Linked DNA regions of Homo sapiens. The protein of the gene in region 1 interacts with the protein of each later gene in a pairwise test. Each region holds a gene or a part of one and is shown in the gene's direction. Other genes may lie near its edges. The genes, in order: WNK1, LCP2, HDAC9, KIAA0232, TULP3, FAM53C and EIF3A.

Evidence for each region.
Region 2: the proteins of WNK1 (region 1) and LCP2 interact in a two-hybrid assay, tested with the Homo sapiens proteins (one large-scale study listed by IntAct).
Region 3: the proteins of WNK1 (region 1) and HDAC9 interact in a two-hybrid assay, tested with the Homo sapiens proteins (one large-scale study listed by IntAct).
Region 4: the proteins of WNK1 (region 1) and KIAA0232 interact in a two-hybrid assay, tested with the Homo sapiens proteins (one large-scale study listed by IntAct).
Region 5: the proteins of WNK1 (region 1) and TULP3 interact in a two-hybrid assay, tested with the Homo sapiens proteins (one large-scale study listed by BioGRID and IntAct).
Region 6: the proteins of WNK1 (region 1) and FAM53C interact in a two-hybrid assay, tested with the Homo sapiens proteins (one large-scale study listed by IntAct).
Region 7: the proteins of WNK1 (region 1) and EIF3A interact in a two-hybrid assay, tested with the Homo sapiens proteins (one large-scale study listed by IntAct).

Annotation. Positions count from the first base shown.
Region 1 is NC_000012.12:880,810-885,098, forward strand, and holds part of WNK1 (serine/threonine-protein kinase WNK1), read left to right. Parts: coding exon 1-190; intron 191-882; coding exon 883-980; intron 981-1,101; coding exon 1,102-1,264; intron 1,265-2,133; coding exon 2,134-2,250; intron 2,251-2,585; coding exon 2,586-2,759; intron 2,760-2,964; coding exon 2,965-3,022; intron 3,023-3,311; coding exon 3,312-3,434; intron 3,435-3,839; coding exon 3,840-4,289. UniProt on the Homo sapiens protein: Serine/threonine-protein kinase component of the WNK1-SPAK/OSR1 kinase cascade, which acts as a key regulator of blood pressure and regulatory volume increase by promoting ion influx.
Region 2 is NC_000005.10:170,252,611-170,256,899, reverse strand, and holds part of LCP2 (lymphocyte cytosolic protein 2), read left to right. Parts: intron 1-324; coding exon 325-374; intron 375-3,686; coding exon 3,687-3,781; intron 3,782-4,289. UniProt on the Homo sapiens protein: Adapter protein primarily involved in signaling pathways within T-cells, as well as other immune cells such as platelets, mast cells, and natural killer (NK) cells.
Region 3 is NC_000007.14:18,645,207-18,649,495, forward strand, and holds part of HDAC9 (histone deacetylase 9), read left to right. Parts: intron 1-2,578; coding exon 2,579-2,792; intron 2,793-3,259; coding exon 3,260-3,477; intron 3,478-4,289. UniProt on the Homo sapiens protein: Responsible for the deacetylation of lysine residues on the N-terminal part of the core histones (H2A, H2B, H3 and H4).
Region 4 is NC_000004.12:6,858,438-6,862,726, forward strand, and holds part of KIAA0232 (uncharacterized protein KIAA0232), read left to right. Parts: coding exon 1-69; intron 70-2,463; coding exon 2,464-4,289.
Region 5 is NC_000012.12:2,928,355-2,932,643, forward strand, and holds part of TULP3 (tubby-related protein 3), read left to right. Parts: intron 1-610; exon of another isoform or gene 611-671; intron 672-1,893; coding exon 1,894-1,991; intron 1,992-2,682; coding exon 2,683-2,886; intron 2,887-4,289. UniProt on the Homo sapiens protein: Negative regulator of the Shh signaling transduction pathway: recruited to primary cilia via association with the IFT complex A (IFT-A) and is required for recruitment of G protein-coupled receptor GPR161 to cilia, a promoter of PKA-dependent basal repression machinery in Shh signaling.
Region 6 is NC_000005.10:138,340,704-138,344,992, forward strand, and holds part of FAM53C (protein FAM53C), read left to right. Parts: intron 1-480; 5' UTR 481-513; coding exon of another isoform or gene 514-561; 5' UTR 562-632; coding exon 633-710; intron 711-1,105; coding exon 1,106-1,163; intron 1,164-4,121; coding exon 4,122-4,289.
Region 7 is NC_000010.11:119,056,571-119,060,859, reverse strand, and holds part of EIF3A (eukaryotic translation initiation factor 3 subunit A), read left to right. Parts: intron 1-15; coding exon 16-114; intron 115-721; exon of another isoform or gene 722-849; intron 850-1,141; coding exon 1,142-1,258; intron 1,259-1,462; coding exon 1,463-1,648; intron 1,649-2,556; coding exon 2,557-2,904; intron 2,905-3,819; coding exon 3,820-3,924; intron 3,925-4,006; coding exon 4,007-4,120; intron 4,121-4,289. UniProt on the Homo sapiens protein: RNA-binding component of the eukaryotic translation initiation factor 3 (eIF-3) complex, which is required for several steps in the initiation of protein synthesis.

The DNA of each region.
Region 1 (4,289 bases):
AGTCCTATCCCCTCCCATGCCGACAGAAGTACTGGCTACACCTGGGTACTTTCCCACAGTGGTGCAGCCTTATGTGGAATCAAATCTTTTAGTTCCTATGGGTGGTGTAGGAGGACAGGTTCAAGTGTCCCAGCCAGGAGGGAGTTTAGCACAAGCCCCCACTACATCCTCCCAGCAAGCAGTTTTGGAGGTAAATAGAATTACTGCATGTTTATATGTAAAACGTATATATGTAATTGGACAACAATGATAAAGGAGAAAGAAACAGGCTCCCCTGGTTTAGAACTTATTTGGAGACCATGTCAAACTAACTTCTGCATGACTTTTTCTTACAGCAGAATGAAATGCCAATGTGGGGTCCTTGTTTCCACTGGCTGTTCTGTTGGGAAGTGAGTGTGCCTTGGAGAAGATGAACCCTATTAGCACTTCACTTCTCTAGCTAGTACTTTAGCCATTATTCTTGTCCTTTCACAAACTTTTTCCATTGGCAGTCATAAGAGTATCTTACCCTCCTGTGCTCTCAGCAATCATTTTTGCCCTGCTAGGAGAAGATCTGAATTCATCTTTGTACTATGCTCTGTCTGCGCTATTGCACACTCTTGGTAAGATGCTGGCTGCATGGCAAGTTGTAGGTTCACACTGCCTAGCAGATATGTTGGCTGACCTCATACCATGCAGTCTATACCAGAGACTAGCTTTAGCAACTTCCTTTGGAATTTTAAGACCATTATCTCTAGATGCTGAATATTGAGAATTTACTAGTAAATTTAGTGCTTCTAGGACGTAGTGGGGAGGGATAAGGAAAAAAATAAGTAGATTATTGGGGATAGTGAATGATAAATCTATTACTACCGAGATTTGAGTTATCTTTTCGATTCACAGAGTACTCAGGGAGTCTCTCAGGTTGCTCCTGCAGAGCCAGTTGCAGTAGCACAGACCCAAGCTACCCAGCCGACCACTTTGGCTTCCTCTGTAGACAGGTACGTAAAACTAGAATTCTCCTTCCTTGACTGGTAAATAAGACGGTATGAAACGCCAAACTGTCAGACCTTTAAATCTCATATTATAAACTGCACTTTTTTTTCTTTTTAAATTTCAAAGTGCACATTCAGATGTTGCTTCAGGTATGAGTGATGGCAATGAGAACGTCCCATCTTCCAGTGGAAGGCATGAAGGAAGAACTACAAAACGGCATTACCGAAAATCTGTAAGGAGTCGCTCTCGACATGAAAAAACTTCACGCCCAAAATTAAGAATTTTGAATGTAAGTATTCCTAATTTGTGAGTTTCATGTTGTTAAAGGAATTTGACACTGAAAAAGATTTTAGAGGTCATCAAATCCAAACCACTCACTTCATAAAATAAAGATAACTATCTGTGTGTGACAGATAATTTTTTTTTTTTTTAGACGGAGTCTCGCTCTGTCGCCCAGGCTGGAGTGCAGTGGCATGATCTCTTCTCACTGTGATTGCAGTGCCTCCTGGGTTCAAGCGATTCTCCTGCCTCAGCCTCCCAAGTAGCTGGGACTACAGACACGTGCCACCACGCACGGCTAGTTTTTGTATTTTTAGTAGAGACAGGGTTTCACCATATTGGTCAGGCTGGTTTCAAACTCCTGACCTCAGGTGACTCACCTGCCTCAGCCTCCCAAACCACTGGGATTACAGGCACCCAGCCAGATAATTTATATAGTACTCTTCTCATTTCATGCCCACAGTCTCTTTGACTTAAATATCACATTTTTAGAAAAATGAAAAGGTAGTTCATAAAGCTATGATAGGGCCAGCAGTTAATATCATTTAAATATTTCTTAAGGCTTAGATGAATTGATGAATGTATAGGATCTTATAATTAGCCAAATGATATTCTTACATTCCATATTTCTATGATAAAGCACTACTTATCTTTTAGAAAAAGAATAGAGAGTTTTAGTAAGTAGCTCAAAGGCTAACGTCTTCTCAAAGATTTTTCTTGCTACCAGTTTAAGAGACAAAGTACTAGTGCTCCAAGGAACAGCGATAACACTATGCTTCCTTAGACATAAAGTCAAGTGCTAATCTGCATTGCTTTTCTGAAATTCAGTAATAAAGCTGAATATGGTCTTTGGAGATGATGTACCTTTTTTCTTTTTAGGTTTCAAATAAAGGAGACCGAGTAGTAGAATGTCAATTAGAGACTCATAATAGGAAAATGGTTACATTCAAATTTGACCTAGATGGTGACAACCCCGAGGAGATAGCAACAATTATGGTACGTCTGCATTTGGAGTTCTAGGTTTTTCCTTAGTACTTGATCTTAATAGCCATTGCTCTAGGCAAATATGCCATATTTTATAATCCATGTTTTTTTAAAGTTATGCATTTACTTCAATGTGAATAAAACTATCACACCCAACCTGTGATTTAGTGATGTTTTTGTCTAGGCTATGTCTAACTAGATATTGAAGTTCTTAAAAAGAGAAGAGCTAACTTGAGTACAAAATAAATAAAAATATAGGTAAGTATGCAGATAGGACAGAAGTCATAAAAGTGACATAAAGTTTGAGAAATGACACTAATTAGACTGACATCACATTTCTTTTACAGGTGAACAATGACTTTATTCTAGCAATAGAGAGAGAGTCGTTTGTGGATCAAGTGCGAGAAATTATTGAAAAAGCTGATGAAATGCTCAGTGAGGATGTCAGTGTGGAACCAGAGGGTGATCAGGGATTGGAGAGTCTACAAGGAAAGGATGACTATGGCTTTTCAGGTTCTCAGGTAGGTTCACCACTCCCATAGTGAAACTTTGTTGATTTAAAATATTTTCATAGTTCTAAATTTGCTATGCAAAATGTCCAGTGATATCACCTGACACCCATGACCGACAACAAACTTTTATGTTCTCTTCACATGTGGCAGTTTGCTTTGCCTAGTCATTGAGATTGCATTTGAGAATGTATTTAATCACTTTTGTTTGTTGTAGAAATTGGAAGGAGAGTTCAAACAACCAATTCCTGCGTCTTCCATGCCACAGCAAATAGGTGAATTTATTTTCTTTCCTTGTTTTTACCTTTGACTTAAGAAGCCATTAGCCGAGGGTGGTGGCAGGCTTCTGTAGTCCCAGCTACTCAGGAGGCCGAGGCACGAGAATCGCTTGAACCCAGGAGGCGGAGGTTGCAGTGAGCTGAGATCGCGCCACTGCACTCCAGCCTGGGTGAGAGAATGAGACCGTGCCTCAAAAAAAGCAGTTGTATGTGCCAATAATGAAGTCTAACAATATTTATAATAATAATGCTATTAAGTTACGTTTGTTTGTTTGTTTTTGACCAGGCATTCCTACCAGTTCTTTAACTCAAGTTGTTCATTCTGCGGGAAGGCGGTTTATAGTGAGTCCTGTGCCAGAAAGCCGATTACGAGAATCAAAAGTTTTCCCCAGTGAAATAACAGATACAGGTAAGGGATTGATTCTGCCACATTGTTATGTAAATTCTACAGTGCCTCTGCTATGTTGAAAGCTTAATCATAAAGCAGTAATTTATGATGACACAGATAATAAAAAAGAATAGAAAACTGAAGTTATAACCAACAGATAAACATATGGGAGAGGGAAATAGATGAAGAATACAGAGAATTACAGAAAAAGCCAAGAAGCACGGCCATACCAAGATATAGTCTGTATAATAGATATTGTAGTATGTGTTTATTTCTGCACTTAGTACTGTTGTCTATGTTTTAAGATTACTCCATATTTTTTATCAAAAACAGATATTTATAGGAGCTGACTTAGGCTAGCAGACAATCTTTTGAATCCATCCTTTTAAAATCAGCTGATTCTTATCTTTTTGTATTCCTTTGCAGTTGCTGCCTCTACAGCTCAGAGCCCTGGAATGAACTTGTCTCACTCTGCATCATCCCTTAGTCTACAACAGGCCTTTTCTGAACTTAGACGTGCCCAAATGACAGAAGGACCCAACACAGCACCTCCAAACTTTAGTCATACAGGACCAACATTTCCAGTAGTACCTCCTTTCTTAAGTAGCATTGCTGGAGTCCCAACCACAGCAGCAGCCACAGCACCAGTCCCTGCAACAAGCAGCCCTCCTAATGACATTTCCACATCAGTAATTCAGTCTGAGGTTACAGTGCCCACTGAAGAGGGGATTGCTGGAGTTGCCACCAGCACAGGTGTGGTAACTTCAGGTGGTCTCCCCATACCACCTGTGTCTGAATCACCAGTACTTTCCAGCGTAGTTTCAAGTATCACAATACCTGCAGTTGTCTCAATATCTACTACATCCCCGTCACTTC
Region 2 (4,289 bases), on another chromosome or scaffold:
GGACTTCTGTATTCTCCCAACTCAAAGAGCTCAAGTTGCAGCCAATTTTTAAAGTAACTGTTAAGTGCCCTTTACACAGTTGAATGTTGTTGCTGTTCTGCTTTATAAAGCTTGTTAGACTTTGGCATGGTCCACAGCGGAATGTAGTTCCATTCCCTGTGTGCTGTGTTCTGTCCCTGTGCCCAGCCCCCATGGTTTTGGGGGCAGCAGGGAAAGTGATACCAAATCAAGAAGCATTTGCAGCCTGGCTTCCCTAACCCAGCTCCCCTGTCTGGCCCCATCACCCCAATCCAAATAAATTTTGTTCTTTTTCTGTCTCCTCAGTAACAGCAGTTTTCCACAGAGTGCCTCCCTGCCACCATACTTCTCTCAAGGTTTGTACTCTGGGCTTTTGTGACGTGCTTCAGCCATCAAGCCTTTATGACTGGATCCCTAACCTGTCCCAAAAGCTTTCGACAAAGGTTTTATTGTTTCCTAAAAGCATCTGATTTCCTCATTCAACATTTAATTCCGTGTCTGCAGTGTGCCAAGGGCTGTCGGAATGATAGGATAGTACCTAAAACACAACACATACACACACACGTATACATATACATGCCCATACACACATGCACATATACATGCACACACACACATGCATACACATGTACACATATATACATGTGCACACAGGTATACACATATATACACATACACAATACATGCACACACATGCACATGCATACACACATACATACATGGACACACCTACACACACTTCACCAGGAAGCCAGCCCTCATCCCCAATCTTCCTGTGCAGAACTATTCCTCCAGCTCCGGTTTCCCTACGGAATCCTCAGAATCCTGTTTGCCTTTCTCTGCAGTTTTAGATTTCCATGATCAATCTGTCCATGGTTGTGAGTTGGGGAGCATGTTCAAAATACAAACTAAGAGAACTTAACGTCACAGATTCTGATTCAGTAAGTCCGGAGTGAAGTCAGGGACCTGTGTTTTTAATAATACCACCTCTGGACGTCCATGATTAGTATTCGCTTAGAGTGTTCTGCAACTTGAAAGTGCATATAGATCACCTGGGAATTGTGTTAACATGCAGATTCTAATTCAGGAGGTCTGGGGTGAGGCCTGAGTTTCTGAATTTCTAACATATTCCATGCGATGCTGTGACTGCTGGTTCATGAACCACTTTGAAAGGCACTGGGGCAGGACTAATTTGTGCTTTTTATCCTTAAAGACTTGCAAGTGACAGGCACTTGGTAGGCACTTTAAAAATGCTTGTCGAATGAGCATCAAATGACTAGGGAAAGTTACCCAACTCTAGTAAGTAGCATTCCAGGAAACTGGCTTAGCATTGCCAGATTTTCCAATTTTTTTCTCAAGAAAAGTGAAATTATTTAATTTTTAAATGTTGACTTAAATTTTTAAAAAATGCTGTGAAGAATGACAACAGAAAAGCCACTTTTTTTGCAGTCATGTTCCACATGCAGTGTGTGCACGGGCCAGTGTGTGTTCAGTAGAAAACTATGTTAGTAAATGTGAGTTGATAGCCTGAGAATCAACATTTTTTCCAAGAACACATCTAGGGTATTCAGTTGGATGCATCATTCCATAGAGGGGCGAGATCCCACTGCTGACGCCAGTGGCACCCACTAAGTTTTCAATGTTTTCTAAGCATTTGAGGTTATGGTGGTGTCCACGTTCACCACATGGTTTTCACAGTTTCTCGCCCAACCCCTAATTTTCCACAATCCCCAAAATTCTCTGTGTTTTGCAAACACACATTTGTGTTACCTCCTTGCCTCTGTAGCCATCTGAGTCCCAGACACATCACAGCATTATTTTCCAAAGCAAGTTCCACAGATCTCCAGTTTTATGAGTCTGTGATGGGGCTTATTAATGCAAATAGTTAATTATTTTTGGAACATTAGCTTGATCCAAATTGATCTCTTTTCCCCTAAGACTGCCAGGACACCTGGTCCTCGGTCTTCTCTACTGGTTCTACTGGTTGTTCCAACATCAGAAGGATAAAGTTTGTGCTGTGCATTGCCCAAAAACCTGTCATGACTCCCTTGAGAGTCTAGATATTAAGGGTGGTAGGTGACTGCAATAAAAAAGTGTATGTGCTTCTCTGTTGTAACTTAGAACTCTATGATGCTGGCCTGCAGGTGCAGAGGCAGAAAGAGAATCATTTCTTAACTGTAGAATGGCCATGCAATGCGGGCCTTGGTTCTGTTACTCTCCTGTATTGTTAGGTTTCATTCATTCAACAAGCATTATAAAAGTGCAAGTGTTGGACTGCAAAAAAAATGGGGATGGGGAAGATCTGTCTAGGCACTGGGAACTTGGAGAAGGAAGGCACTGGCAGCTCAGGGCCAGCTTGTTTAGAAACAGGGAAGGAGCATCTTAAACAATCCTGTTGATGTGGCTCAGGAGACTTGTTTAAAAACAGGGAAGGACCATCATAAATAATCTTGATGATGCGGCTCAGGAGGCTTTAGCCCTTACAGGTGACTCTCCTCTCCTCAGTGGTGTAACAAGGTAGACGTAGTGACAATCCGTGGTGTAGAACCACCGGAAGTACTTGCTAACATGCAGATTTCTGAGCCCCAGGTGCTCGCAAGTCGCCCAGGGATTCTGACTCATGCACAGTAGCATTTGGTAACCACAGGTTTAAGTTTTGGCTTTGCCACTGATAGCGCATGATTTGCTTAGCCTCTGAGCCTGTATTTCCCCATATGCAAAATGAAGACAATACCTACCTTGTAATGTTGCTGTGAGGATTAAAAAAAATGTACACACGATACCTTACTCAAGATCTGGACAGAGTTGTGCTGAATAAATATTTGTTGAAGGTATGAATGAATGATGGTTAAATAATTAAGAGAACATTTGACTCACAGAATTTTTCTGTTTTTAACCACAGCCTGGCACATAGAAAATACCCTGGGCAACTGCAATAAACACAACTAAACCTTTCCTGAGATTAGGAAACATTCTCCTAAAGTTTCAAGGAACTGTAAATGAGAAAAAAGAGTTTTAGAGAAGATGAGGCACAAGCACTGGGTAATTAATAGTTGCCCAGTAAAAACTTCCTGATCTGTAGTGCCTTCTATGTGAGTTGAACAGTCTACCTGTTTAGTTAGAACAGCGGGTAGCCAACTTTGATTCTAAAAGCTAGCAATATTCTCAAGGTAATTTTGTCTTCTCTTGGGTCACTTACATTTCTTTTTGTGGAAACATTAAGAACATAATTATCTTCATCATTGCATTGTCCCTACATCAGCTGTTGGGAATCCATTCTGCCTATGATGATATTATAAGAATCTATGAAAAATTTGTCTCTTGAGCATTCATTTTGACGTTCACATTCATTAAAACAATTGCGAATTTTTTTATAAAGGGATCTAGTCACTTTATATTATGTAACATGCACATTTAGAAAAATCACTCAAAGTTGAGGTTCTCTTCTCAAAGTTTTACTGGCATGATTACAGAATAATGCCTGAGCAGCCCCCATGGTTTCAAACAGATGAAAATTATTTTTGAAGCCCTTGTTTCTTAAAATGCGAACTATAGGACCAATCGCAAGGGTATTTTTTTGGGGGAGTGGGGGGAATGTGTTTTGTGTTTTGATAGCAGCAAACAATAGCTTACAGTAAATTAACTGTCAGAATTCTATACTTTTGAAGGCCCTAGCAACAGACCACCTATCAGAGCCGAAGGCAGAAACTTCCCCTTGCCACTTCCAAACAAACCTCGGCCCCCATCCCCCGCGGAGGAAGAGGTAAGAGAGCATGTTTTTATTTTTGTTTGTTTGCCTTTTCCCTGGTAAAAGAATCACCAGAAACTCCCATTGAATGTTCTTCTGTACTTTTATCTTCCCTTTGTTTTATTTTATTTATTTGAAAAAAAAGTTAAAGGAGAAGATCCAGATGAACAATATGTTCTTTTCCCTTGGCGTTCTTTCAGACGCTTTCAATGGCAAACATGTGTTTTGCATTAAACAGCAAGAAAAATAATCCTGTTTTTTATGTTTATGACCTTGATTCGTCACTTAACTGCTCAATAACCCATTTTTTTAATCAAGCAGGTTATTATGCTAAACTGAAGAAATTATTGTATCTGTATCTTTCCTGAAGAGGTTCCATACTGTAAGGAACTCTTATTCACAGGCATTTTTGCAACCAGTGTCATGATAAAAAGCAGTTCGCACAAAATATCTTCTATTTAGCCCCAGCTAAATGACTCTGAATGCAAATTAAGAAAACAAATGTTTCAGACCTCCTGGAATT
Region 3 (4,289 bases), on another chromosome or scaffold:
AGTGCTGAGAGCTACAGCTTCGAAAGCACAGCAGCATATGTTTATAGAATTTATTTTGTGAATGAGTTTATTTTGGGAATTTAAGTTACTGACTCTCTGGTACTGGCGAATATGTATCTGGAAAAACTCTCTAAGAAAAATATTAAACTATTCCCAGAAGATTCAAAGTGAATCAATTAGTTTAAAAGTCCTGACAACTGAAATAGGCTCTTTCGGGAAGAAAGCAGTCACTGTATCATACTGTTACATGAAGGCCTAGAAGTGATTCCTTGTTCTGGACTCTTTGCCTTAAAATTTCCTAGTACTCAGCAGAGAAAATGGAATACTAGAGATCTCTTTGCCAAAGCAGAGCTAAACTTGAAATGTTATTGTCATACTAGCAGAAGATGGCAATAATTATTCTAGGCATATTCCCTGAAACAGTGTCAATTTTAGTTGTAAAAAATGTGTGGGCCTTATCCAGAATAATTCATCTCTGAAATGTTAGTTAATTAAATTGTATATATACAGGGGTCATATGATACATTAGGTTTAGAGAGAAATTTATTCCAACTCTCATCACCAGTTTGGCCAATCTTTACCTTCAAGTCTTCCACTGAGTTGAATGTGTCAAGTTCACTTGTATGTTCAACACATAGTTTCAATGCGTATTTTAAAATCAACCTAAGAGATATTATATCTGGTATTGTCAATAGACTATAATGTCATTTTATGTGGTACTGTGTTCTTATACCAATGAGGAAAAAACAAAATTTGGATGTTGTCTTATATCTGGGGATTATAAAAGAAAGCATTGAAAATACAGAATTCAGCTATGCTCTTAAAATTCCACATGAAACATTTGTAAATGAAAAACAAAAAAAGGAATTAGGAATGAAACTAAAAATAAATATTCATGGATAATATTTTACAGTTATCACTAATTAAAAAATATTTTTCCTTCTCTATTTCCTGTCTCTTCTAATGATAAGTAAATACCAACCCAAAAACTTCTTATGACACATGAATAGGCATTTTATTTTTACTTATTTTTGTATGTTCTAAGCCACTCCTCTCAATAACTCACACATGGACCACTTTTAATGTGGTCAGGGAAAATTTTTTCCCAAAGGACCAAGTACTAAAGCCAGACCAGTTAATGTTTCAGAGGTAATACGATTTGGTACCATTGGATGAATAAACCAATGTGGTTTGGATTAAAGTTTCATTTTTCTTTGCTTCCATTTTGGTGTGGATGAGGCCATCACAATTAATTTTTCAAGTTTAGCATTGCTTTGCCAACGGGATTTGTAGTACTCCATTTCTACATTGAATACTGGGAAATTTTAAGGAAAAGAGGCCAGGACAAGGAATCACTTCTAGATTAAACATTGCATTGACTTACTGTGTGACTCAGACAAACCACTTACCTCTTTGTCCTTCAGTTTCTCCATTGCTGAAAATTGCTTCGCCTCCCTGGTGCACAGCAATTTTGAAAGATGAAACATGAGTTTTGAAAAGAAACATGCCACATAATTTTGAGGTATTAGAGTCCTGCTTTTGTAATAGCAAAATGACCACCATTCATTAAATCCTTTGAATAGGATAATTCATTATTGCTATTGATGATATAATTATTATTGCCTTATTACTGTGTTATCATACATTTCAAGTTCTTAATAGCATTTTTTGTAGTTTATTATACAAAATATCTAGAGTGTCATTTTCAATATTTAGAGATTTGGGTATCTGTTATGAATTAATATAAAATGTTTAAATCAAATTTCTGCATATTTTTACCTCCTTTCATTGGGTTATTTTAAGAATTTAATTTAAAAAATTAAACATTGGACACTTACAGCTCTGTGAAATTATTAGAAGCCATGTAGAGAAAGGGTAAATTGTTCCTTTTGCTTGCAACTCCAAAATTACAGTCCATCTTATCTCCAGCTTCTTAATCCCCATGATATAGTCTTTGAATAAATTTTACCTCTCCAGTATGCCTTTAACTTAAACAGTGTATAAAATATTTTAGAAATGTACTTTCCACTTATTAAGCCTGAAATAAGCATTTTTTGTTTTTTTATTGACATATAAAAGGTACATATATTTGTGGTTTACAACATAATGATTTGACATATGTATACATCGTAGAGTGACTTAAGCTAATTAACATATGCATTGTCTCACATACTTATTTTTTATGGTGAGAACACTGAAAATCTATTCTCTGAGAAATTTTCACATGTACAATATATTGTTATTAACTGTAGTCATCATCATGTACAACAGATCTCTTGAATTTATTCTTTCCACCTAAAATTGTGTATGTAGCATCACTTCTGATTTTAATTATAAAACCTTTTTATGTTCAATACAATGACAATATTAAATTGTCTTCAGTGCTCCAACCCTATTTTTATTCCTTCTTTTTTGAACTGAGTTAGTTTAAAAAGTCCATTTTCCCTGCTCAGCCATTGGGTAAGATGGGGCTTTTGTTTTGGGAAGCTACAGCATAGGAAACTTGTCTAATGATTTAGAGACCCAGTGACCCACATGGATGAAAGAGGATTAACATCTTTGTTATTTCTCAACACAGGCTTCGAATTCACTCAAAGAAAAGCAGAAGTGTGAGACGCAGACGCTTAGGCAAGGTGTTCCTCTGCCTGGGCAGTATGGAGGCAGCATCCCGGCATCTTCCAGCCACCCTCATGTTACTTTAGAGGGAAAGCCACCCAACAGCAGCCACCAGGCTCTCCTGCAGCATTTATTATTGAAAGAACAAATGCGACAGCAAAAGCTTCTTGTAGCTGGTAATTCATTATGGCACCATTTGCAGGTCATTTTAGGGTTTTATTTTATTAGTGATCCAGGATAATGTCTCTTTTACTCAAGACCCTGATGGAGATCCACAGTGCTATACAAAAGTTTCCCTGATACCTGGTACTGTGGGAAAGGCTATCATCTTTATTTATTCCTTCAGATCCACTTGGGGTAGGAGGACTCACCTCATTTAACCTTTATTCATACCAGACTAGGCTGTGGTGAGTCGTATGGTCAGATGCGTACCTGTCCAATGCCTTGACATTTCTCTCTTCCCACACCTGACCTATTCTTCTGTTGTTTGCCTGGTAGCATCACTAATTCACTAATTTTCTTACAGTTTATACCATGTATCTGTTTTCTTTGGCTTCTTATCTTTTCTTAAAATTGTGTGTGTGTGTATGTGTGTGTGTGTGTGTGTGTGTATACACACATATACATGTATTTTTTTTTTCAGGTGGAGTTCCCTTACATCCTCAGTCTCCCTTGGCAACAAAAGAGAGAATTTCACCTGGCATTAGAGGTACCCACAAATTGCCCCGTCACAGACCCCTGAACCGAACCCAGTCTGCACCTTTGCCTCAGAGCACGTTGGCTCAGCTGGTCATTCAACAGCAACACCAGCAATTCTTGGAGAAGCAGAAGCAATACCAGCAGCAGATCCACATGAACAAAGTAAGCCTCCAAGCCAAGTCAAAATGTTCTAACCGCCAGTTTGGAAATTGGGTATCTCTTCACTGATATGGGTGTCTAAGAGGAATGTTGATGGGAGTCACAGCAAAAAGGATGTGATCATCCTAAGCCTGCTTTCTTGGCTCAAGGACACCATCACAATATCAGTGTTTTAACCACCATTATGTTCATAAGACATTTGTAGCAAAATTGAGATGATACATTCACAAGATCTTTTTATGATCAGGTATATATTTTGGTACACAAGCCCATACGGGCATATGTATATGGAGCCTCATTTTTTAGTGTTGCAGAAAAAGTTTGAGGCAGACTTGAATGTGGTGTGTTGACATGTCAAAAAGTTTGTACAGGTGATGACAGATAGGCCAAGATTAGCCAGTAAGGCACTTCTCAGCAACTTGTATGCATCTACGTTACATTTATTTTGCGAATGCCCCACTTCATTCCAATAAGCGTTTGGAGTAGTTTCTCGGAAACTTGTGATCATTTCTTCCTGGAAGTCTTAATGTTGCTAAAATAGACAGCGGATGTCTGTACCGTACCACATCCTTAGGAGCTCTCCTGCTGAGGCAACTACAAAGAAACAGTGATTGCAGCATAATATCAGACAGGCCAGTAAAGGATTTTCTATGAATTCGTAAGCAAAATGATATTAAAGAACCTGGTCTGGACAGTTTTTCCACTACTTTTTGCTGTGGTAGGCTTAAAAAAGCACCATCTTCTCATTCCTGGAAAATTCCTGGAAAATATTAAGGTCCTGAGTATTAAAATTCTATTCCCTTGCCTTTGTGCTG
Region 4 (4,289 bases), on another chromosome or scaffold:
CAAAAAGTTAGAGGGGTCTCCCTCTCCAGAGGCAGAATTATCCCCTCCAGCAAAGGATCAAGTGGAAATGTATGTAAGATTGTATTCGGTAATAAAGTGTGCATTTGTTAAAATCAGATGAATAACTGCTACATGGTTTCCGTTTTCTGTTTGTCATCTTGTTTAGTTTCATTATATATAATGTAAGAAACATTTATCGAGCGCTTATATGCTTGACACTGAGAATTCAAAGGTGAAACAAGATGGTTCTGTCCTTGGTGTTCATATTCAATATTTGTGGAACAAATGAGTGAAACATAGAAGGTTATTATTTGCTAAGTCTATGTATGTACTATTACCTTTAATATTCACAACAGCCCTTTGAGACAGCTGTGAGAAATTAGGATTATCAGCCGGGCACAGTGGCTCATGTCAGTAATCCCAGCACTTTGGGAAGCCAAGGCAGGTGGATCACCTGAGGTCAGGAGTTTGAGACCAGCCTGGTCAACATGGTGAAACCCAGTCTCAAATATTAGTTGAGCATGGTGGTACATGCCTGTAATCCCAGCTACTCAGGAGACCGAGGCAGGAGAATTTCTGGAACCCGGGAGGCAGAGGTTGCAGTGAGCTGAGACTGTGCCATTGCACTCCAGCCTGGACGACAGAGCGAGACTCTGTCTTATTAAAAAAAAAAAAAAAAAAAAAAACAAGAAAGAAAAGAAATGATTATCCATGTTCACAAGCAAGAACACTGAGTTCCCACTGTTTACTGCAGAGGGAACATAGGCAATCCTTGACCTGCCAAACCTGCTTCCTAAAGATACTTTTATTTTTTTGTTCGTAAATAGTCTTAAAATAATCTGCATTATAAACAGACTTCCCTATTATACATTTTATTTTAATCTTTCGAACCTCTGAAACCTAAGAAAAAAATAGCATTTCCTTGGTTTGTATAGACCTGTATTATCCAGCACAGAAGCTGTAAGCCATGTGTGACTACTGAGCACTTGAAATGGGGCTGGTTCAAACCGTGATGTGCTGTCAGTGGACAATTCTCATTGGATTTCAAAGACTATATATAAAAAAAAGTAAAGTATTAAACATTTTAAAGTATTGATTACATGTTGAAATGATAATATCAGGAGTTTAGTTAAATATATTACTGGAGTGCATTTCACCTATTTCTTATGTTTTTAATGTGCCTACTAGAACACTTAAAATTACATATGAAGCTCAAAATATATTTCTGTTGGTCAACTCTGACATAGACTGAGAAAGAGAATCAAGTTCAGGCCCTTTGAAAACATGGCCTTTTACCACTTCATGTGTGACCTTGAGCATTGCCTCTGAAACAACAGTCCCCAGTAGCCAATGTGACTTTAAATTCTGCCCTTTGCAATCTGTTCTGCTCTGAAATCTTCAGTGGCCCCCAGTTTCCTAGCAAATCAAAAATACTTTCTCATTTTCAAGCCCCCTGAAACCAGCCTCCCTGGCTTTTTCTACGCTGCATTTCTGGTGATCACAGCTCTAGTTAGTTTTCCATTCTGTGAGCATAACATGTGTGTCTTGGTGTCCTCACACAGGCTCTCAGGCCTCACAGGTAGTACTCACTAAACTTGTGGAATAAATCTGGAATTTCAAGGCTCAGTTGTGGCCCACTTTAATTGTTGTAGGCCTCACCGACATCCTCTTTCTGAATACTTGAATGTGATCATTCCTACCCTTTCTGAGGGCCTGCTTCAATGCCAGGCAGTATGCTAGCAGTTACGTAAGAAGCTGCTGTTCCAACTCATTTTGCATATTAATTCCTTTACTCCTCACAACCCTGAGAGGTAAATATTACTAGCTCTATTTTGTAGGTGAGGAAACTGAGCTATGGAGAGGTTAAGTAACATGCCTAAGGTCACACAGCTAGTAAAGCAGGCAGAGCCAGGATTTGACCTCAGAGAATGTGGCTTCAGAGCTCATACTCTTGACTGATTGCTACCGAGCTTTTTAACCGCATATATTTTCAACGCTCACAATAACTTTGGGAGGTAAGTCATAGGATCACCATTTTGCAGTTGAGGAAATAGTCTGAAGCAGTAAATAATGAGCTTAAAGTCGCAAGCAATAGTGACTTAGCTGAGATTCAAATTCAGATAATGCTTACTGAAGAGACTGCATTCTTTCTTCTACTATTTGTCCTTTTTGACTTCTTAATTAAAATGCAAACTTTGAAGATAAAAACTGTCATCTTACATATTTTCTCAGTAATCTTACAGTGCGTATCACAGTGCTGAGCAAAATGGTGCTTGATGCATGGGACTAATCTTAAGCATATTTTACTGTATTATAAATTATTGTAAAGTTAATGATTCTTGGATGATGTGAATGTTGACACTACTAAAATGAAATATTCCATTCTTCTGGTTGGTAATGTTGTTTTACTGTATCTAAAAAATCTGCATACTCGTGTTTTGAAGTCTTTACTCTGTTTTTCAGGTACTATGAAGCATTTCCACCACTTTCTGAGAAACCAGTTTGCCTGCAAGAAATCATGACTGTGTGGAACAAGTCTAAAGTCTGTTCTTACTCTAGCTCTTCTTCATCATCCACAGCCCCACCAGCTAGCACAGATACTTCCTCTCCTAAGGACTGCAACAGTGAAAGTGAAGTCACCAAGGAAAGAAGCAGTGAAGTACCCACCACTGTGCATGAGAAAACCCAGAGCAAAAGCAAAAACGAGAAGGAAAACAAATTTAGTAATGGCACAATTGAAGAAAAGCCTGCTTTGTACAAAAAGCAAATCCGACATAAACCTGAAGGAAAGATTCGCCCTCGCTCGTGGTCTTCTGGCTCCAGTGAAGCAGGCTCAAGTTCCAGTGGGAATCAGGGAGAATTAAAAGCATCCATGAAGTATGTTAAAGTAAGACACAAGGCACGAGAGATTCGAAACAAAAAAGGGCGGAATGGGCAAAGCAGGCTTTCTTTGAAGCACGGTGAAAAGGCTGAAAGGAACATTCATACTGGAAGTAGTAGCAGTAGCAGCAGTGGTTCTGTCAAACAGCTGTGCAAGCGGGGTAAGAGACCTTTAAAAGAAATAGGGAGAAAAGATCCTGGGAGCACTGAAGGAAAAGACCTGTACATGGAGAATAGAAAGGACACAGAGTATAAAGAGGAGCCCTTGTGGTACACCGAGCCAATTGCTGAATATTTTGTTCCTCTGAGCAGAAAAAGTAAACTAGAGACCACATACCGAAACAGACAGGATACAAGTGATCTGACATCAGAGGCAGTGGAAGAATTGTCTGAATCAGTGCATGGTCTTTGTATCAGCAACAATAATCTTCATAAAACATACCTCGCAGCAGGTACTTTCATTGATGGTCATTTTGTAGAAATGCCTGCAGTTATAAATGAGGATATTGACCTCACTGGGACCTCATTATGTTCTCTACCAGAGGACAATAAATACCTGGATGATATTCATCTATCAGAATTAACGCACTTCTATGAAGTGGATATTGATCAATCCATGTTGGATCCTGGTGCCTCAGAAACAATGCAAGGAGAAAGTCGGATTTTGAATATGATTCGACAGAAAAGCAAAGAGAACACAGATTTTGAGGCAGAATGTTGCATAGTGTTAGATGGTATGGAGTTGCAAGGGGAACGTGCAATATGGACAGATTCTACCAGCTCCGTAGGTGCTGAGGGCTTATTCCTGCAGGACCTTGGCAATCTGGCTCAGTTTTGGGAGTGCTGTTCATCCAGCTCCGGTGATGCTGATGGGGAGAGTTTTGGAGGAGACTCTCCAGTTAGACTCTCTCCCATCTTAGACAGCACAGTGCTCAATTCACACCTGCTTGCTGGCAATCAAGAGCTCTTTTCAGATATTAATGAAGGATCTGGTATAAACTCTTGTTTTTCAGTGTTTGAAGTGCAATGCAGTAATTCTGTTTTACCATTTTCTTTTGAAACACTCAACTTGGGAAATGAAAATACAGATTCTAGTGCTAATATGCTTGGGAAAACACAGTCTAGATTGCTAATATGGACCAAAAATAGTGCCTTTGAAGAAAATGAACACTGTTCTAATCTTTCAACAAGAACTTGTAGTCCATGGTCCCATTCAGAAGAAACACGTTCAGACAATGAAACATTAAATATTCAGTTTGAAGAATCCACACAGTTTAATGCCGAAGATATTAATTATGTAGTTCCTAGAGTCTCGTCAAATTATGTAGATGAAGAACTTCTAGATTTTTTGCAAGATGAAACTTGCCAGCAAAACAGTAGAACTTTAGGTGAGATTCCTACATTAGTTT
Region 5 (4,289 bases), 2.0 Mb from region 1:
ACCCCGTCTCTACTAAAAATAAAAAATTAACCGGATGTGGTGGCACATGCCTGTAATCCCAGCTACTCGAGAAGCTGAGGCAGGAGAATCGCTTGAACCTAGGAGGCGGAGGTTGCGGTGAGCCCAGATTGCACCATTGCACTCCACCCTGGGCAACGAGAGCGAAACTCCATCTCAAAAAAAATAAATAAATAAAATAAAAAGAAAATGCTGAGGGGAATAAAACTGCTGTAAAGAATAATGCATCATTGAATTTTTTTTTTACTGTGGTAAAATATGCATCGTAACATAGAAGTTACCAGTGTTGGCCTGGCATGTTGGCTCACACCTGTAATCCCAGCACTTTGTGAGGCCAAGGTGGGCAGATCACCTGAGGTCAGGAGTTTGAGACCAGCCTGACCAACATGGTGAAACCCTGTCTCTACTAAAAATACAAAAAAATTAGCTGGGCTTCGTGGCGCACACCTGTAATCCCAGCTACCGGGGAGGCTGAGACAAGAGAATTGCTTGAACCCAGGAGACGGAGGTTGCAGTGAGCTGAGATGGTGCCACTGCACTCCAGCCTGGGCAACAGAGTGAGACTCCATCTCAAAAAATCATAATAATTTACCAGTGCTGCAGCTCTTTTTAGAATTTGTCTAGCAAGTTTTCCTGTTTTTACTGAAGCCTTCCCTTCCCTTCCAAATAACAAAAAGTACACTTTTTTTTTTTTTAAGAGTTCGGGTGGGCCGAGACGGGCGGATCACGAGGTCAGGAGATAGAGACCATCCTGGCTGACACGGTGAAACCCCGTCTCTACTAAAAATACAAAAATTAGCCGGGCATGGTGGCGCGCGCCTGTAGTCCCAGCTACTTGGGAGGCTGAGGCAGGAGAGTGGCGTGAACCCGGGAGGCGGAGCTTGCAGTGAGTCGAGATCGCGCCACTGCGCTCCAGCCTGGGCGACAGAGCGAGACTCCGTCTCAAAAAAAAAAAGAGTTCGGGTGTAATTCTGTCACCCAGGCTGGGGTGCAGTGGCACAAGCATAGCTCACTTTAGCCTCAAAATCCTGGGCTTAAGTGATCCAACCACCTCAGCTAGCTAGGACTACAGACACACAGGTACCATCGTGACCAGCTAATTTTTTTAAAAAAACTTTTTATGGAGACAGGTCTCAAACTGGTGGCCTCAAGCAGTCCTTCTGCCTCAGCCTCCCAAAGTGCTAGGAGTTCAAGCACGAGCCACTGTGCCCTGCCTAAATTTTTTTTGTTTTGTTTTTTTGAGACAGAGTCTCTGTCTCCCAGGCTATAGTACAGTGGCACAGTCTCGGCTCGCTGCAAGCTCCGCCTCCCAGGTTCAAGCGATTCTCCTGCCTCAGCCTCCTGAGTAGCTGGGACTACAGGTGCGTGCCACCACACCCGGCTAATTTTTTGTATTTTAGTAGAGATGGGGTTTCACCATGTTAGCCAGGATGGTCTCAATCTCCTGACTTCGTGATCTGCCCACCTCAGCCTCCCAAAGTGCTGGGATTACAGGCATGAGCCACCGCGCCCAGCCTGCCCTGCCTAAAATTTACAACTTTAATCAATTTTAAGTGTGAGATTCAGTGACATTAAGTGTATTAACAATGTTGTGCAACCATCACTACCATCCATCTCCAGAACTTTTTCATCATCCCAGAGACTTCACACCCATTCAAGATAATTCCTCATTCTCCCCTGCCCCCAGCCCCTAGTAACCTCTATTCTACTTTCTGTCTCTATGAATTTGCCTGTTTTATGTATTTGGACAAAATAGTTGTGTTTACGGTCAGAATAGTTAAGAATGTTTTAAGCAAGAAAATTAAAACTATCTTTGTTTCAAAGACCTTTTTTAAACAGTGTTGGCAGTGCTAACAGTTCTTCCTTTTCTGCTAGATATCTCTGAAAGTGTGAACTTCGATGAGGAGACTGATGGAATATCCCAGTCAGCATGTTTAGAAAGACCCAATTCTGCATCAAGCCAGAATTCAACCGTATGTAGTTCTGAAACTTCTTCCATTAGAGCTAATTTGACTCTTTCTCAAACATATCTTCAGTATTTATTTATTTATTATTATTATGTATTTTTTGAGGTGGAGTCTCGCTCTGTCACCCAGGCTGGAGTGCAGTGGCATGATCTCAGCTCACTGCAAACTCCGCCTCCCGGGTTCACGCCATTCTCCTGCCTCAATCTCCCGAGTAGCTGGGACTACAGGCGCCCGCCATGACACCCGGCTAATTTTTTGTATTTTTAGTAGAGACAGGGTTTCACCATGTTTGCCAGGATGGTCTCGATCTCCTGACCTCGTGATCCGCCCGCCTCAGCCTCCCAAAGTGCTGGGATTACAGGCATGAGCCACCGTGCCCAGCCCTCAAACATATCTTCAGTATTTAAATACCATTACTGAGTGAGGGTTCCTTCAGAAGTGTAAGCTCAAATTTAGTTTATGATCTAATTTTTTCTGTCTCAGGTCAGCTATTGTGAGGCTTTGTCCCATTTTGATACTTACTCTTCATTACTCTCAATATTCATATACTTAATTTAACTTTTCAGTTTTCCTCATTCTGTCAGAAGACTGAAGACACGGGTAAATTACTAAGTTGCTTTGTCCACTAAGTGTTTTTCAAAGAGAATCAGATTTTGAGTCTCGGCCTGTTGTTGCTCATGTATGGCTGTCCTTTCAGGATACAGGCACTTCCGGTTCTGCTACTGCCGCCCAACCAGCTGATAACCTCCTGGGAGACATAGACGACCTGGAGGACTTTGTGTATAGTCCTGCCCCTCAAGGTGTCACAGTAAGATGTCGGATAATCCGGGATAAAAGGGGAATGGATCGGGGTCTCTTCCCCACCTACTATATGTACTTGGAAAAAGAAGAAAATCAGAAGGTATGAGAATTGATTTCTAAGAAAACTCTTGAGAGAGAGAAGAATGTTGTGGGAATAGATTGTTGATGGGCCTTAGGGAACTAACTCTGGTATTAGACCAAGCCAGCTGGAAGTAGATTGTATCTTTCAGTCCCCAGATGCTGTGTTCTCATTTTCTGCAAAGAGCTCATGGTCTAATAGGCAGCAAGCTCTACCCTCCCACAAATAAGAGCTTTATCCACGAAGTGGGAAAATGGACGGGTAGTTGTTAATGTAATTATTTTCACCTGTCTCCCATGATTGAGTTTTTGAATGTTACTGTTTGTTCTTTTGGTTTTTCTTTTTATTACGGAAGAACATGACATTGTGGAAGGAGAGTGAGTTTTAGGGAATAGGAGGAATTAGAAATACAGAAGGACCTACAAGTTAAATGTCTTGTTTCTCACCCTAGAAGTTCTAATTTATTTTATAAGTTTGAGCCAGCGATGAACTTTATTTTATTAATTTTGTATTAATACCAGGTCTTAACAGATGATTTTAAGAGCCTAGAAATAAGATAATGATACTAGGTGTTAATTCTTCTAACCACCATTTATTGAGTGTTTACGACAGACCAAGCATATGCATATATATCTATATATATTATCACCTGTAATCCTTGCAGCCACCTTGTTAGGTAGGATTTCTTACCTCTGCTTTAAAGATGAGGTAACTGGGGCTTAGGGAGTGACTTACCTACCCCACGTTGCACTAAGTGGTGGCAGAGCCAAATTCAAACCTATTTTGCATAATTCTAAAGTCTTCCTGCTTAGCCACTGCCACTCTCCTGCTTCCCTATTATGGTCCTAGTCTAGGAGAGTTTAGGAAGGATGCCTATATAGGATGGTATTCATGCCATTGAGGTCACAGTGGTTTAACACAACAGCAGTATAGAAAAAAGAGTATTTCCTCCCTGGAGAGGCTTCCCTTTTGTCCCTTCTTGCCCTTTGCCTAATCAGAGTCTTTCCTGATGTGCTTCACCAGATGTGGTTGACATTCCTCTGTCTGTGTCCCCATGGCATGAAGAAAGCTATCACAGGCCAGGTGCGGTGGCTCACACGTATGATCCCAGCACTTCGGGAGGCTGAGGCAGGTGGATCCCTTGAGGACATGAGCTCGAGACCAGCTTGGCTAACATGGGGAGACCCTGCCTCTAGCAAAAAATTAAAAAATTAGCCAGGAGTGGTGGCATGCACCTGTAGTTCCAGCTACTCGGGAGGCTGAGGCAGGAAAATCACTTGAACCTGGGAGGCAGAGGTTGCAGTGAGCTGTGATTGCACCACTGCACTCTAGCCTGGGTGACAGAGTGAGACCCTATCTCAAAAAAAAAAAAAAAAAAAAGCCATCACAGTAAAGAATGGGAAGGTTTTCAGGATCCTGTCTCT
Region 6 (4,289 bases), on another chromosome or scaffold:
ATAAAATCCTATGTACTCAGGTCTAAAGCAGAAAGTCTTGCCTACAACCACTGTTCTTCCTTGTTCTCTTATTACTATTTCTGTAGTTTAGGAGAAGGGTACCTCTTTTCACTTCTGACTGGAAGATAAAATACTGGGCTGATCTTGATGGAAATAATCATTTGGGCATCCCTCTCTCTCACTTGAGCAGCTGTTTTCTAAGTGGTGCTGGTATTCCAGTTAGAAACAACAGAGCATGAACCAGTTTAAGGGTAGCAAATAAGTTTCAACTTGATTGCCAACTCTATTTTATTTCATATCTGGACTGCCAAGTTCATAATTTCTGAAGCTGTGTTTAGGCTTAGCTGGAAAGAGCTGTGATCAATTGATGTCTGCCAGAGGCCTGGCTTAGGGGTGCTGTGGTATGTGTGCCATGCATTTTCCATCTCTGGACCAGGTGCATCTCTAATATCACTTGGGGCTGGTCCCTCTAATTGGCAGACTCAGCAGGCATGACTGGAGAGGGAAGTCCCAATGGTGCTAGAATGGTGCTGCAGTGGCAGAAGACGGCTCACAAGTGAGGTCTGGAAGAACAACAGGGAAGACATCCATCATTTGCTCCAAAGTGTGCAAGTCAAATCCTGGGGAGAATCATGATAACCCTGATCACTGAGCAGCTACAGAAGCAGACTCTGGATGAGCTGAAATGCACACGCTTCAGCATCAGTCTGGTAAAAGACCAGTCTTCCTGCTTCTCCACGACCCCCTCCCCCTTTTTTCTGAGGCTGATTGTTGCTATTACTTTACTCTTGTCCTGTGCTGTATGAATCATGGTACTTAACCTGGAAGAGCCCACTAATGGCTCAAAACCCAGCCCAAAAGGAAGGGGGCAGGGATTTTTCCACCGATAGAGAAGGGACAGCAAAACTTGGGTGGAGAAGGGTTTGAGATGTTGGAAGATGTGGATTGTTTGACTTACTAACTTTGGGAAGACAAGAGGAAGAACACTTAATGTCCCTAACATCCCTGTAGCTCATGAATCGCAGAGGAGAACTGAAGAGGGCTTCCTAGAAATCTGTCAGTGTGTCCTGAATCCAAATCATGATGGATATTCTCTCTTTCTTAGCCTTTGCCTGATCATGCAGACATCTCCAACTGTGGGAACTCTTTCCAGCTTGTGTCTGGTAAGGCATCGTGTGTGTTTGTGTACGTGTGTGTACCCATTCCTCTCTCCACACATTTCTATCATTGGTTTCCAGTGACCAGGGCTAGCGAGCCTACCTCTAGAACCTTCTTGCCAGGGTCAACTTCTGAGATTGACAGTTGTCTTTCATGTTCTAGCATGAAAGTTATCTGGTTGGTTTGCTCTTATTCTAGCTTTGTGGGGACTTGTATAATCTAATTTTTTGAATAGGTAATACATTCACATGGTTCAAAATTTAAAAAATAACAACAAAAAGGTTATGCTGAGAAAAGTCTCTCTTACTCTCCCGTTCCCTATCTACCCAGCTTCTACCACCTCCCTAAAAGTATTAGTTTCTTATACAGTATATGTGACTAGAATTTCTTTATATAAAAAGAAGCAAATGTATATATTTATTTCCTTTCTTTTTTAAGTTCTCGGATACATGTGCAGAACGTGCAGGTTCGTTACATAGGTGTACATGTGCCATGGTGGTTAGCTGCATCTATTTTATTTCCACGTTTTTAACACAAAAGGTTGCATACTATATATTATTTTGTACCTTTAAAAAAAAAAATGGGACCGGGCCTAGTGGGTCACACCTATAATCCCAGCACTTTGGGAGGCCAAGGTGGGCAGATCACCTGAGGTCGGGAGTTCAAGACCAGCCTGACCAACATGGAGAAACCCCATCTCTACTAAAAATATAAAATTAGCCAGGCGTCGTGGCGCATGCCTGTAATCCCAGCTACTCGGGAGGCTGAGGCAGGAGAATCACTTGAACCCAGGAGGTAGAGGTTGCGGTGAGCCAAGATTGCGCCATTGCACTCTAGCCTGGGCAACAAGAGCAAAACTCTGTCTCAAAAAAAAAAAAAAATTGCTGGGCACAGTGGCTCATGCCTGTAATCCTAGCACTTTGGGAGGCCGAGGTGGGCGGATCATGAGGTCAGGAGTTCGAGACCAGCCTGGCCAACACAGTGAAACCCTGTCTCTACTAAAAATACAAAAATTAGCCTGGCATGGTGGTACACACCTGTAATCCCAGCTACTCGGGAGGGCAAGGCAGGAGAATCACTTGAACCCAGGAGGTGGAGGTTGTGGTGAGCCCAGATCATGCCACTGCACTCCAGCCTGCACAACAAAGCAAGACTCCATCTCAAAAAAAAAAAAAACAAAAAACAAAAAAAACTTTAATATAGCTAGGAGATCTTTCCCTATCAGAATGCTGAGTATTCATTCCCTTGTTATATATAGCTACATATTATTACACTGCATAGATGTACAGTGGCTTATTTAATGAGTTTTCTATTGATGTGCATTTAGGTTATTTCTAATCTTGTTTGGATACATAAAACTGTAGTGGGCCAGACGTGGTGACTCATGCCTGTAATCCCAGCACTTTGGGAGGCCGAGGTGGGCAGATAGCATGAAGCCAGGAGTTCGAGACCAGCCTGGCCAGCATGGTGAAACCCCGTCTCTATTAAAAATACAAAAATTAGCTGGGCATGGTGGCAGGCGCCTGTAATCCCAGCTACTCAGGAGGCTGAGGCAGGAGAATCCCTGGAATCCAGGAGGCGGAGGTTGCAGTGAGCCGAGATCGCACCCACTGCACTCCAGCTTGGGCAACAGAGCGAGATTCCATCTCAAAAAAAAAAAAAAGAAAGAAAAAAGAAACTGTAGTGAATAACCTTGTACATATGTCATTTTTTCACATGTGAAAATATATCTGAGGTATAAATTCGTAGATTATTAATTACTGAGTTAAAGGGCCCCTGATCGTAGGGACATTTAGATGGAGGCATCACTGGTGGACAATCAGAACTCCCTAACTCGTGCTGCTCAGCAGTTCTGCATCTCATTTTCTTTTCTGGGATACCTAGCAAGGGAAGTGAGTTGGCAAAAACATGTTCATTCAGTCTCTTCCTCCTGTTTATTAAAGACTTGCTGAAAGCCAGGTATTGTGTCATAAGTATAGAGCAGGAACTCATGGTCCCTGCCCTCATAGTGGTTAGTAGAGGGAAGAACTATAGACCAAATACACTCAGTATGAATTTTGCCACCATCAAGTCTGACTTCGTATACTTGTCGTTTGCCCCAAATATCCAGCCCCTGCAGAATTCCAGCCAGCTAGCCAGAGGAGTTTGGATTAGGCCCTTTGTCCCTTAATGAGCCGTCTCCCAAAAGTCACAATTTTGGTTGGAATACAGTGAGTGAGGATTGTTTCTTTTAGTCCATTTTCCCTTCCTTCTCTTGGTCCCTCCATCTGTTTGGATTTAAGAGAAGGCCTAGGGGAAGGGAATCGGAATATGTGGGTGGCCAGACAGAAACGAAGATGAGCAGCACAAAGTCAGGGTTTCCCAAGCCCAGGTTTCACTGTCAAAGGCCTTCCCCACCCTGTTTGCCCTCCCTAGGAATAAAAGTGATCTCTTACCTGCCTGATTACCTCTTACTTCTTGGCAGTCCTAACTCCTGACTTGGTGCTGTTGACACATGAGAGGAGGAAAGGCCGAGAAAGAAGAGCATAGGCCTGCTTTTCAGCATCCAGGGCAAGCGTGGGGGAGGGGCGAGGGAGAGATGAGCAGGACACTCACAAACGTGTTTGTTTCTCTTGACTTCTTTTACCTTTGAGAGGGAGTGGCAGGCAGTAGATGAAATGTTTTTGATTCCAGGTAGTTGGTCACAATGGAGGCAATAGAGCATAGTGGTTTAAAAACCTAGCCTTCGCATCAGACAGACCTGGATTTGAATCCTCCTTTGGTCTTTTGAGTGCTATGTGATTTTGGGAAAGTTATTGAATTTCTCTTATCTGTGAAATGGGGATAATGATAACGATACTACCTACCTCATAAGGTTTTTGGAAATTTTCACATAAAATGCTCCATACATTATGTGGCAAATGGTAAGTTCTTAAAAAATGTAAGCTATCATTAATATTATTCTTATTATAAATGCCTTCCAGAAGGTGCTTCCTGGAGGGGCCTGCCCCACTGTTCCTGTGCTGAGTTCCAGGACAGCCTCAACTTCAGCTACCATCCCTCAGGCCTGAGCCTGCACCTCAGACCACCCAGTCGGGGAAACTCCCCCAAGGAGCAGCCCTTCTCCCAAGTCCTAAGACCTGAGCCCCCAG
Region 7 (4,289 bases), on another chromosome or scaffold:
TAATGGATTTTATAGGTTCTAAATTGGGTTAGGGAACAACCTGAAAAGGAACCGGAATTGCAGCAGTATGTGCCACAACTGCAAAACAACACCATCCTCCGCCTTCTGCAGCAGGTAAAAATAAAAAAATAAAAAAAGTTTTGTGATGTTATGTGCTCATCATGAAACTAAAAACTGGAAAAATCTAGAACTGCCTAGGAAGTGAGAACCTCCCCAAGTTCTGCCCCTGGCAAAAATTAGTCTATTTATTAATTTGAAAATCAGAATTATTATATTTACATATTTTGTAACGGACGCTTTTGTTTTTTGGCTGAACACTGTCTTTGGGCATTTTTCCTTGTTAGTAATGTAGGGCTACCTTATTCCATTTAAGGTACTGTGGTGTATTTATTCAGACTCTCTTGATGAAAACCTGTATTCCTAGATTTTTTTTTTCCCTGTTAGAAATCTTGTAGCATTGAGCATCTTTCATACATGTATCTTTGCATACTTCTATTACTTTCTGTGGCATAAGAAGTGGAATTAGTCATAGGGTTTATGGATTTAAAGCTTTAATAGCTATTCAGAAGCCTGGATTAATAGACCCCCCACCATGAGTGAATGAGACAGCCTTTTCATATATTTTAGTCCAGGGGCTTAAGTCAGTAAGTGCTCCCATTTTGTTTTCCATTTGTTGCATTTGGGAAGGAGGGCGTTTTATTATATTTTCATCTCAGTATTTGTGCACATTTCATTGACCTGCTTTCTTTTATGTGAGTAGTGTTATTTCTTATGTGCTATACAAATAATTGAAGGCTAATTAGCAGTATAACTATAAATAGTAATGCTGCCAGTCTCCTTCAGACAAAAATTCTATAAGAAGTGTTTAAATATATTCGGTAAGTAGCAGGTTTTTAGGCTTTTTTGTTTTACAACAACTAGGATTTGAAAAGATTATAGGTTTGAGGAATAGTATGATAATGGTTCTCAAAGCATGGAGTTTAGAGTCGATGGTCTGGGATTAGCATTCTGGCTTTAACAATGTACTGCTAACATAAATTCTCTGGCATAATTTCTACTTCCCATGACTGTCATGAGATTGCACATAAAAAGTGCTGAATAAACAGTGGCTAGTGTTATTAACCCTTTGTTTTCTATGCAGGTGTCACAGATTTATCAGAGCATTGAGTTTTCTCGTTTGACTTCTTTGGTTCCTTTTGTTGATGCTTTCCAACTGGAACGGGCCATAGTAGATGCAGCCAGGCATTGCGACTTGCAGGTAGGTATGTGCTGTAAGGAGACAGGAGAAGGCCCTTGAGGGCTAGAAAGACACATACCTTCTGTTTCTCAGCTTTTGGTACAGTGATACCATTTTAAAGTTTACTGAGTGAACTTTTCCAGCTTTTGTATATGACATTCTTCTGTTACTTTTTGACTTCATGCTTACTTGTGGATTTAACCATTGATAATTTAATTTTCAAAGGTTCGTATTGATCACACTTCTCGGACCCTGAGTTTTGGATCTGATTTGAATTATGCTACTCGAGAAGATGCTCCGATTGGTCCTCATTTGCAAAGCATGCCTTCAGAGCAGATAAGAAACCAGCTGACAGCCATGTCCTCAGTACTTGCAAAAGCACTTGAAGTCATTAAACCAGCTCATATACTGGTATGCATCTTCCCGGGGAAATAAATCCCAGAAGTTTTGAGGGACTCTTAACGCCATGCCATGTCTTTTACAAAAAGGTTTGAGACAATATCTGAGAGAAGGGATTTATGATATGTTTCCTATAGAATTGTACTTGGTAGTTTTGTTATTTGATCAAATACACAAATCATTGAGCTTTCTTCCATTGAACAAAATACTACTCTGTGTAGGTAATGTAATAGGGTGGATTATGTTACAGAAACAACAGAGTGGACATAGGATTCCTCAAATAGTGAAATACAGTGACTGGATTTTTCCCTCCTGCTTAAGTTATTTCTTTTTTTTCTTTTTTGAGATGGAGTCTCACTCTCACCCAGGCTGGAGTGCAGTGATGCCATCTCGGCTCATTGCAATCTCTACCTCCTGGGTTCAAGCAATTCTTGTGCCTCAGCCTCCTGTGTAGCTGGGACTACAGGCACGTACCACGTGCACAGCTAATGTTTTGTATTTTTAGTAGAGATGGGGTTTCACCATGTTGGCCATGCTGGTCTCAAAGTCCTGGCCTCAAGTGATCCACCCGCCTTGGCCTCCCAAAAGTGATGGGGTTACACGCATGAGCCACTGCCTGTAACAAGTTATTTCTTGTATGTGAGCTCTGTTAATGAACACCTAAGGTAGGTTTGGTGCAGAGAAAAGTTGTCTTATCTAGGAGAGCTTCTTTAGCTGCGTCATTGCTATTAAAAGACTGAATAGGAGCAACACCATAGCATTTAATACCGAAAACAAACAGCTTGGATAGTGTCATCTTCCATTATCAAATGCAGATACATAGAAAGGCAGTACATCAGGATTATTTTGTAATTTCTTTGATGCCTAATACCAGAGAATGTTAATTTTGGTCATGTAAAAAAATTCATTTGTTTTTGAAGCAAGAGAAAGAAGAACAGCATCAGTTGGCTGTCACTGCATACCTTAAAAATTCACGAAAAGAGCACCAGCGGATCCTGGCTCGCCGCCAGACAATTGAGGAGAGAAAAGAGCGCCTTGAGAGTCTGAATATTCAGCGTGAGAAAGAAGAATTGGAACAGAGGGAAGCTGAACTCCAGAAAGTGCGGAAGGCTGAGGAAGAGAGGCTGCGCCAGGAAGCAAAGGAGAGAGAGAAGGAGCGTATCTTACAGGAACATGAACAAATCAAAAAGAAAACTGTCCGAGAGCGTTTGGAGCAGATCAAGAAAACAGAACTGGGTGCCAAAGCATTCAAAGATATTGATATTGAAGTACGTAGCATCTTAGTTATTAAAAAATTAGTTTTATCCAGGTATTTTGTACTCTTAGAACCACAGTCCTTTACCATTTGTTGGCTTACTGGGTTATTTCATGCATTTTGGTACAGCTGGTCATGACTAAATCTGTGAGTAAGCATATGTTTATTGCTCTGTGAAGTTTTGTGTTTTTTTTGAGACGGAGTATTATCTTGTCGCCCAGGCTGGAGTGCAGTGACGTGATCTCAGCTCACTGCAACCTCCGCCTCCCGGGTTCAAGTGATTCTCCTGCCTCAGCCTCCCAACTAGCTGGGATTACAGGCGCCTGCCACCATACCTGGCTAATTTTTGTATTTTTAGTAGAGACAGGGTTTCACCATGTTGGCCAGGCTGGTCTTGAACTCCTGACCTCAAGTGATCTACTTGCCTCAGCCTCCCAAATTGCTGGGGTTATAGGTGTGAGCCACCACACATGACCTGTTTCATAGACACCTTATACACATAGCCTGAAGGTAATTTTGTACACTATTTTACATAATTTTGTGCATGAAACAAAGTTTTGAATGCATTTTGACTGACCTGTCACATGGGTCAGGTGTGGAATTTTACACTTGTGGCACCATGTTGGTGCTCAGAAAGTTTTAAAATTGGGAGCATTTCAGATTTTGGGTTTTTGGATTAGGTTTGCTTACCCTATTTAGTAGAGTCTGGGTAGATGTAGGTTGGAGTAGTGAGAAAAGGATGTATGGATATTTTTTTCCTTATGGTCAAATGGAAATAAGGCTATTGTATAATATTTTTACATTTCCTAAATTATCACCCATTGTAACAATAAAAGCAATGTAGGATTTTATTCTAGAAAGCAGTGAGTTATGTTAGGCATTGCTTGTTTCTCTTTATTAACAATTGTGCATTTGTATTACCTTTCAGGACCTTGAGGAATTGGATCCAGATTTTATCATGGCTAAACAGGTTGAACAACTGGAGAAAGAAAAGAAAGAACTTCAAGAACGCCTAAAGAATCAAGAAAAGAAGGTAAATGAAAGGGTTGGTAAACCTTTAACATACCAAGTTAAGAGAGATTTTTTAAAACTACGTGTGTTTTCGTGTCATTCAGATTGACTATTTTGAAAGAGCCAAACGTTTGGAAGAAATTCCTTTGATAAAGAGCGCTTACGAGGAACAGAGAATTAAAGACATGGATCTGTGGGAGCAACAAGAGGAAGAAAGAGTAAGTTTTTTATTTAATTGTAATATTTTTAGATTGTAATAAAATCCTCTGCCAGTAATGGAACCAAGGATTCAGAATTGCTTTATTTTGTATTCTTCTGCTAGAAATGGTGCTCTAATGGCTGCCTATGAACAGATTGGTAGAAAGAGGGAAAATTTCACAATAGAGA